2 separate regions of the Homo sapiens genome follow, and region 1 is linked to region 2. The links come from fine-mapping of genetic effects on gene expression. A gene starts in region 2. The other region holds a variant in brackets. All regions are shown on one strand. Distances are between the middles of the regions. Region 1 overlaps CYLD (CYLD lysine 63 deubiquitinase). Region 2 holds the start of CYLD-AS1 (CYLD antisense RNA 1).

Evidence for each region. PIP is the estimated chance that this variant, and not a neighbour inherited with it, causes the effect. A credible set is the group of variants that fine-mapping cannot tell apart.
Region 1: its variant is the best candidate, but not a certain one, in a credible set for the expression of CYLD-AS1 in whole blood (INTERVAL, PIP 0.87).

Annotation. Positions count from the first base shown.
Region 1 is chr16:50,775,322-50,779,721 of GRCh38, reverse strand. CYLD (CYLD lysine 63 deubiquitinase) reads right to left here. Exons shown (of 19, transcript NM_001378743.1): 7 at 3,445-3,543; 8 at 1,781-1,897; 9 at 1-57. Among named protein-coding and RNA genes, the nearest start is that of CYLD-AS2, 26 kb to the left of the region's middle. RefSeq lists a silencer at 1,117-1,276. The variant A/T (reference allele first, on the strand shown) is at 2,161.
Region 2 is chr16:50,740,699-50,745,098 of GRCh38, reverse strand. It overlaps CYLD-AS1 (CYLD antisense RNA 1), which reads left to right and starts at 2,352. Exons shown (of 7, transcript NR_184279.1): 1 at 2,352-2,428; 2 at 3,695-3,771; 3 at 4,305-4,400. CYLD (CYLD lysine 63 deubiquitinase) reads right to left here and starts at 3,013. Exons shown (of 19, transcript NM_001378743.1): 1 at 2,975-3,013; 2 at 2,258-2,337. It overlaps MIR3181 (microRNA 3181), which reads right to left and starts at 2,794; the gene lies at 2,722-2,794. RefSeq lists an enhancer at 2,259-2,358 and a silencer at 2,599-3,198.

The sequences.
Region 1 (4,400 bases), 35 kb before region 2:
AAGAACGGTCAAAGTCTGTAGATATCTCTGTAAGAGATTTTGCAGGGTCTTCTGCAACTAAAAAATTATTCCTAATTACAGAAATGTATTCAAGGATATTGACTCTGTCTTACATTTCTAAAAATTTATATACAGATCTAGTCCAACTGCCCACCTGACCTCCCTGCTATTAATAGTACTCTCATAGGCATCACAAAGTTATTATCTCCAACAGTGTTCTCGCTCCTCTCTCCACCTCCATATTTATGCACCTCAGTCAATGGCACCCAACTGTTCAAACCAAAAAAATCTATTATCAGCGGGTATCGTATACGTGATAGTCTTTGTCCAAAATACAATTAATTGAGAAGGCAGTACAAAAAGATACCGAAAACCTTAAGAAACGCTTCTATATATCTAATGGATCAAAAAAGAAATAATACGTTTTAACAATAAAGAAAAAAGAGAGAAAAAGTAACAAAGAAAGAAAGAATCCTTGTGAAACATGGCTAAATTAATACTTATAAGGGAATTTTATAGACTTCATTGCTTATTTCAGAAAAAAACAAAAGCTAAATATGAACTCAGCATACAACTTGGGAAGTTAAAAGAACAGAATAACCCTCAAAAAAGTAGAGAAGAATAAACTAAAGAACAGAAACAACAGAAGAGAGAAAACAAACATACAATAAGAAGTTCAAAGCCAGAATAAACACAAACACAGAATGTAATTTAAGAGAAACCAAACACATGATAAAGAGAGCCACAGCCAAAAGCTATTTTCTTAAAATGACTAATACAGCTGACAGGCAGGTATTGCAGATCAATGACAAAAGAATGAACTTCTTACTAAATGCTGTTGAGATAATTGGTTATCCATATTTTTAAAAAAAAATTAAACAGGAATCCTACTCATACTTTACATGAAAATCAGCTCCAGGTGCCTTAAAAACAAATGTGGCAGGCAAAACTCTAAAGGCTGGGAGACCACAGAGTCAGGCCTGTTTGCCTTTCCATTCTCATCTCATGAATGTCATGCCTCTGTCTGTGTTCTAGTCCCTGGCAAACACTAGCTTCCATTCTTCCAGGAGGACTTTCCCTATGCTATTTCTTCTCCCGAGGAAGTTCTAGCCCCTTTCACTTTGTCATCTGTCACTCCTCTGGTAAACCTAAGCATGTGTCACTGCCCCAAAGAAACACCCCTAAGACCCTGAGAAAAATCATCTTTGGTGTATTCTCACAGCATCATGCACCTTCACTGCACACACCACCAAGGCAACTCTACTGTGTCTGTGGTTGTTTGACTAATTTCTATCTCAACAACTTAACAACTGCAAACTCACAAAGGGCATGAACCATGTCTATTTTTTCTCACCATTTTCATCTTGATGCCTAAAAGAATGCCTGGCAATCATAAGCACTCAATAAATATTTGTTGAACAAATGAACAAAGAAGAGAATAAACTAGGTGAAAATGATGTCCCAGGACCAAGGGAAGATAAAATTTTTTAAAAGGGAGTGCTTTAAAGAGGTCAGGAAGGAACCAGACAGAAATCTTCCACCCTAAATAGATCAGCAGTTAAAGGAAAAGAACAAATTACTAATACATTTCTTAAACATTTTAATAATCTTAACAGCAGTACGGTTCAAACTGTGTACAATATTTTAGTTCAGCAATATTACAAAGAGCGGTCTACTTATTCTGTTTCCAAAAACTACAAATATTGATATAAAAAACCATTTTTCTCTGATGAGTTAGAAAGAAAGGATCATTATAAAGAACACTAAAATTACTGATTACCTTCATCAATGTACCATGTATTTTTTGATTTGGATTGTGGTTGTGAGTCAACAGAAGACCCATTTAAGGTATAAAATAATTCAGATCTGTTTCTATTTCCAGGGTCTGAGGTAGATCCTATAGGAACAAGAAAAGTTTCATTTAAAAATAAAGTCAATATAGCATCAAAGTTTTTTTTTAGTAAGAGAAATTATTATGAATATGATGTTAATAACTGTTTACATAACCAATAAATGTATATAAACACAATATGTTTTTTAACTGTCTTCAGCTTTTAAAAATTTGGTAACCATTTTGACAATATTAAAAATATTTTTCAGCCCAAAAGTCAAGATAGGAGGGAAACAGGAGTAAGTTAAAAGAAAAGCCCACTCATTTTT[A/T]AAAAAAATGAACTGCTTTAAGAAATTGTTCCATGTACCACAGCTTATTTCTAAATGTCAAAATCACCATTCTCCAGCTTCATTTCATAGACCCATTGGTTCACAAATTTAACCTATTATTTTAAAAGAAGGTAATCCTCAAATTCTATATATAAATCAATACACAAATTACATTTAAAAATAGTTAAGTTTTAAACATTTTGGAATTTTTGGTCATCAAATTCCTTGTGTCTTTGAAAAAATCAAGCACTATTATTTCTTACAGATTGGATTTATTATACGTGAGAGGGCGAGTGTAGCTATGCCACAGCCATTTCATGACATTACCCTGCCTCAGTATTAATTCAAGGACATACCACACACAGTGGAGGGCAGTGGGCTCTCCAGAACCCACAAAAAAGCTGATTTCCCTTTTCAAATTAAAGCAGGTAGCTGTACATTTTATAACTTTAAGATCTACTACAATACAATTAACATGCCATAGCTTAAGAAAATCTTTAGTCTGTTTCTATTTAAGTGAGAGTAGCAAGTTTGAGCTATCCTATATAGATCTATAGGTTAACATAAAAAAGACTGTTACCTATATATCCTGCAATTAATCCTAAGTCTCCCAGGCCCCAATGTCACATAAAATAATTCTTAAAGTACAATTTCCTTTTAAATGAGCCAAAATTGTAATAATTGAGGAAAAAATATTCTTTTCCTAACTCGCATCTGAGTTAACAAAAATTCTCAGAGCCTTTTTAATGAGCTCTTTGGCTTGTATAACTACTATTCTATAAATCTATGAAGTATGTGGAAGCTAACAAAAAAAAGAGCTGTAAGCTCCACACATATTGTGAGGAAGCTTCTGGGAAAGAGAAGAAATTTTTGCTTAGCAGTTTGGGATTTAATTTGTACCAAATCTAGTTAGCAAAATCCATTTAATTAACCTCTAGTATACTTTATCCTATATAACATTATCCATATAGGATTATTTTACACAGTTGCAATCCTAAACTATACATACAAATATTCCAAGTAAGGAGTTCCAAAAACCATTTGATTATAGACCAGCAAAACACACAAGACCCTATGGGGAACTCTTCCTGAGGTAAAAAAGGCTGGGAACACTTGGCTTAAGCAACAGTATTTATATACAAACTTTAGTTTCACTACTAAAAATGTTTGAAAGAAAAAAAGTCTACATACATGTTCAGAAGTAATAGCTTATAATCTTTTTTAATGCTATGGCAAGTTAGGCATTATGCAAATTACTAAAGGTTATATGCTATTAATCCATACCTGTAGCCTTTGGTTTATTATGACTGGATGAACCTTTGTCCCCAACACCTCTTGACATAAAGGCAAGTTTGGGAGGCCTCCTTTCCTGCGTCACACTCTCTGAAACAGTAAGCATGTTTTTTAAAGATAAAGGCAAATTCTTATAGAAGAGAAACAAGGAATGACAGTAACAAAATAAAAAAACCCTCTTTCCACAAAAAGGCAGAATTTTTAGTTTTACAAATGCCTTTTAAAGGCCATCAAAAGTATTGAAAAAGATAATACTATGGGGGAAAAAACCAATGCTGTATTTCAAAATGTAATTTCTATAAGAAAATACCCTCTCAAAATACAATTCAGCTAAATGCTTTAACCTCTTGAAAATTTAATCACTTGTAGTCAATTTTATTTGATCTCTTAAAACACTACAAAGAAAATCTTACTCGGTTTTTTACAGCATTTCCCAAATCAGCAGGCTTAGAACACCCCTGTGTATTATGAAGTGTTTCGAACTCAAATATTTCTTGAAGATGCTGAGATAAACAAAGATAAACAATTTCTTTACTGCACGGAACCAGAGCCTTTAATATGCTAATGTGCATTGTGAACTGCTCAGGGAGAAACAAAATAAACTTATTGATAAAAATTTTTGTGCCACTTTGCTTAGCATCTCAGATTAATATTATTTCATGAACACAGTTTGAAAAAAGCCTGGTTAGGAATATGTATCATGGTTAGGAAAGAAAGTTCTGGTTAAGAACATATATCTGTTTTTAAAAACATATATGTTAAGAATAACACAGATGTGTATACAAACACTTATACATATAAAAGAGGAAAACATAGAGAATTATGCATAGATTAAAAATACAGAAAGCCAGAGACACACAACAATAATATATTTGAAGAAAACACTCACAATTATTTCTGAAATATAGGTGTAATAAGTGTGGCAAACTTGTTTTGAATACAAAGAC
Region 2 (4,400 bases):
CTTCAGGCTGGATAACTGTGTGATTATGAATATCTTGGTAATAAATACTGAATGAAAATTACCAACGAGTTGAAACACAATAATATGTTTAACCCTAAAGCCATGTTGAACAGAAGGCCTTTCCTTTAAGGACGCTGATGAAGGAGAACAGTTCAGGTTCACATAGATTTGAAAACATTTCTGGTTATCTGAGCTTGTTGATGGTCTGGATTCTGAGTAAAGGGGAACTTACTTGTATTAAGATGAAGTCATTCAACCAAGACGAGAGTTGGAAGGCACAAATATTTATCAATTTTCCATGAAGACAATGGAAAGATGATCAGGAAATATGTTTTACATGAAAATGTTAAAGATTACAATTACCACATTCTGAAAGGCAACATATAGTACAAATGAACATCAGTAGCTACAGAAAACTAACAATGGTTAACTTATCCAGAAGATGCAGTGTTTTTCTGATTCTCAAGTTATCAGGTTATATTGTTCATAAGGATCTCACAAAGACAGATCCAATTCAAGAGCTTTTTGCATCTCCAAAGATATCCTGCTTGTTCTAAAAACCACAGGAAGCTATTTAAATTAGAATAAAACTTACAATACTTAATTCTGCCCCTAATTATAAATGGCAAAGAGGTAGGAAGGTCAGCTTGAACACCAAAGAAAGAAGACATGTGGGCCTTTTTCCAAAAGCTTCTGGATAGCTAGAATGATCATCCTTTTAAAAGAGAACATCTCTCACTAAAAGACAAAGTTGTTATATTTCTAAACAGCTAAAGAATAGAGATACAGAGATTCCGTGGCCAGAAAAAAGACTGAGTCCGTTTTAATTTTCCTCAATGACTAATTTGTGTCACAAGTACACAGTCCCTAATACAAGTGGGATTTATAAGGTTAAAAAAAAAAAAGAAAAGAAGAGCCTCTCACATCTGCATATTCCCACTGGAACAAGGAATACTGCTGCCTCTCTAGTGTTAAACCTAGCCACTCCACTGCCAAACTGTGAATTCCCCAAGTCCTTCATTTTTATATTATCCAGTGCCCACACGAGAGCCTGGCATATGCTAGGCACTGAATACAGAGAAATGAATGAAAGACTCAAGTGGTAACAGTGAAAACAAAATTGCATTTCCTCCTCCTGTTTAAGGGATTAAACCAAGAGAAAGAGAAGAGAAAAAGACTCAGGAATTGGGAGTATTTAATGAATTTTGCCTAAAACTTCAGTAATTCTCTAGATAAAATGAAATCATGCTAAACCACTTCATTGTTATACATATAAGAAGAAACAAATACGGAAAATTTCACAATTACGAAACCAAGTTGTTTTGAGGTTTATTTGATACTAGCTTCCTACAGCCTCAACTAGCATGTATGATGCTTATAAATTCTGTACAACCAATGAAAAAAAAACTAATTTAAATCATAGTGTGAAAATCAGGAACAAAATACTAATAGTTTGATAAACAACATAACTATTCCTTTCTCTCTCCCTGTGTTGGAGACTTCCTTAAATCAAACAAAACCACAGTTTAGGTGTGCCAGACTATAAAAATCATTGCTGCTTAATGTTAGTTGTGCTTTATATAACAAGCCTTATCTGCTTCTCACAAAAGTTACCACCCAGAGGAAGGTTTATTTGCAAGAATACTATACAATTTTGCAGCAGAATATTAGAGAATGTTCTGGGTGTTACTTCAATAAGAATTTCCAGCAAATCATTTTCTCCTAATACTGTTCTAGTTCAAATCCACCTACTGCTCAGTGGGGAATGGGAGGCTAAATTCTTAAGGCCATTCAGTCTACTTGGGGCGTGAGGGGGTGTGTAGAAAGCCAACAATCAAACGAACACCCTCTCAAGGCCTGGGTGCTTCTCTGAGAGCCAATGATTGCAAAATGAACAATCTTATTAAGATCCCTAATTAGCCCGAATTCAAAAGCAAGGTAGGCATGCTCCTTAGCTGAGCTAAGGATAAAACTTTCCAGGAAAAATTGAGGAGAAGAAGGTGGCAGGGATGATGGGGGCTGGGAGACTGCAAGGCCACAGGCTTGGTGGCTGGAAGATGACAACTATCCTAAAACATTCAAATGCCAAGGGGTGGAAGAGAAACGATGCCAAGTACATGAATAACCGGCAGCTGACCCAGCTGAGTACCAAACTCAACACCATCTCCTGAAGATTTCATGACTTCGCCCCCGCCCCCCATTCGCCCCCCACCCCCCTCGATTGTTAACATGAAAGAAAAACATAAAGAAAGAATACCTGTCACAGCAGGGCGCACCTTTCAACTAAGGAACTCCGGGTGGCTGTGTAGAACCATCCTCACCCTAGAAAGGGGGAAACTGAAAGAAAAAGCAGAACACGCCATTAACAAGGCCAGAACCCCGACTGCCATTCCTGGACGGGAGCCACCAACACCCGCAAAATCGATCGGTACGTACGCCCCGCGGCGCGGTCGGTAGGAATCACAGCCCCGGGCTCCTGAGGCCAACCGTGGCCGTCGGGGCCCGCCAGCGGCCTGTGCCTCAGTCTCCCAATCTGTAAATGGGGTGGGGGGCGGGAGGGGGACAGCGTCCCGCGCGGCTCCCGCCCCAAGTCCTCTCTCCTCTGGGGGTCCCGATGGTGGCGACCCCGCACGCTCCCCGGACTCGCAGCCCTCCCGGGAAGCCTCGGGGGATGGGGAAGCCCCGGTGGGGGGGGGAAACCCGGGCTGACGTCAGCGGGCTCGGCAACCCGCGGGCCCGGCCGGCTCGGGCCCGGGCAACTAACGGGCCGGCGCCGAGGGCCCGATGGTCGCCGCGGCGGCTCCGGACGCCCTGAGGCCAGGCGGCTGCGCCGAGGGGATCCGGCCGCCCGCCGGCCGCCAGCCGCCCGCTCATTCACTAACCTCGGGCGGCGGGGCGTCGCCCCTCGCCCCGGCTCCCCAGCCCGCGTCCCGGGCCGGCCCCGGCTCCCCACACCCACCGCCCTAGTATTTACCTCCGACGCGCGGCCCCCGCGCAGCCAAACCTGCTACCTGGGCCCGCCCCCACCTGCCCCGCCTCCGAACCGCACAGGGAAGAGGGAGGGAGCGGGGGCGGAGGGGGCAGCCGCCGCGCTAGCCAATCGTAGGCCGAGCTGCGCTCCTGAGCGGGCCGTGATTGGGCCTCCCTGTGACAGACCTTCCTCCAATGGCTGCCAGCCCGGCGCCGGCCGAAGGGACTTTCCGCTCTGTCAAGCTCGGTGGAACCAAAGGGAAAGCGAAGGGGCGGGGCAGAGAAGAGCGGCGGATGGAGGCGGGAAGCTCAAGCTGATTGGGCGAAAGGCTGTGGGTGCCGCGTCACCATTGGCTGATGCTGGAGCCGGGGCGGGGCGCTGCGCTGCCACCAGCTCCGCCTCCCGTGCTCCCGCCTCAGCTGTCAAAACTGTAGACGCTTAGGTTTGGGCTGGGTTAAGAGTCCAGATGAAGGTTGAAATAGGATTCCAGGATGCCGTGAGAGAGCAAAGCTTTAGAATCAGACCTCAGTTTGAATCTTTGGCGCTTTCATTCAGTGGCTGCGTGACCTGAGGAAGTCACAACCACGCTGAGCCTCAATGTCCTCATCTGTAAAATGGAGATCATAGTATCGGTTGTCTTACAGGATTGTGGCAAAATACCGAGCTAAAGTTCCTGGCACGCAGTACCAGCTCAGGAAAGGTTCATCTCTTCCTCCTCCGCAGATTCAGCCTGGGACGCTTGCTGTTTCCGAACCTCTGTTGCCACCTATCCCAGTTTGGAGGGAATTTTCCCAAGGATGGTGAAGAAGGGATTTCCACACGCCGCCTCACTCAGCCCCGCACCCCTGGCCACCAGCCAGGACTTAGGGTGTAGTTAAGGATCTTTCAATTAGAAGGGAGGCTTCTGATTCCCAAAAGCACTCAAAATATTTAAGGAAGTGCTTTTTATAATCAGTCCTAGAGCCTTGCTGCACTGGATACTCCTGTTAATTAATTTCTTCTCCTTTGACATTTTAAGTGCTAATTATAGGAGAAGGTGATTAACACTGAGAAAGGAGGAGGGGTGTGTGTGTGTGTGTGTGTGTGTGTGTGTGTGTTTTTAATCATGACACAAATTTCCCCCAGTGGAAAGTGACATGTTTCTGGAGATCCAGGGAATTTAAACCAATGAATACATAAAAACAGTCACATGAGTGATGACTAACAGTAGCAGTAGACAGGCCACCACTCTTCCTTGCCATAGTCATCCAAAATGAAATGAGCATCTTTTGAAAACCTAAGCCTCATTCTACTCCTGTCCCTCTTTTGTCACTCCTATCTTCCTGTTTTCCAGGCTTCATGACCACACTGCTGTAGGAAGCCATAAGTTGGAAATCAACGGGCCTGGCTTGAAGTGTGGCCTTAGGCAACACCGTTCTCATCTACATCT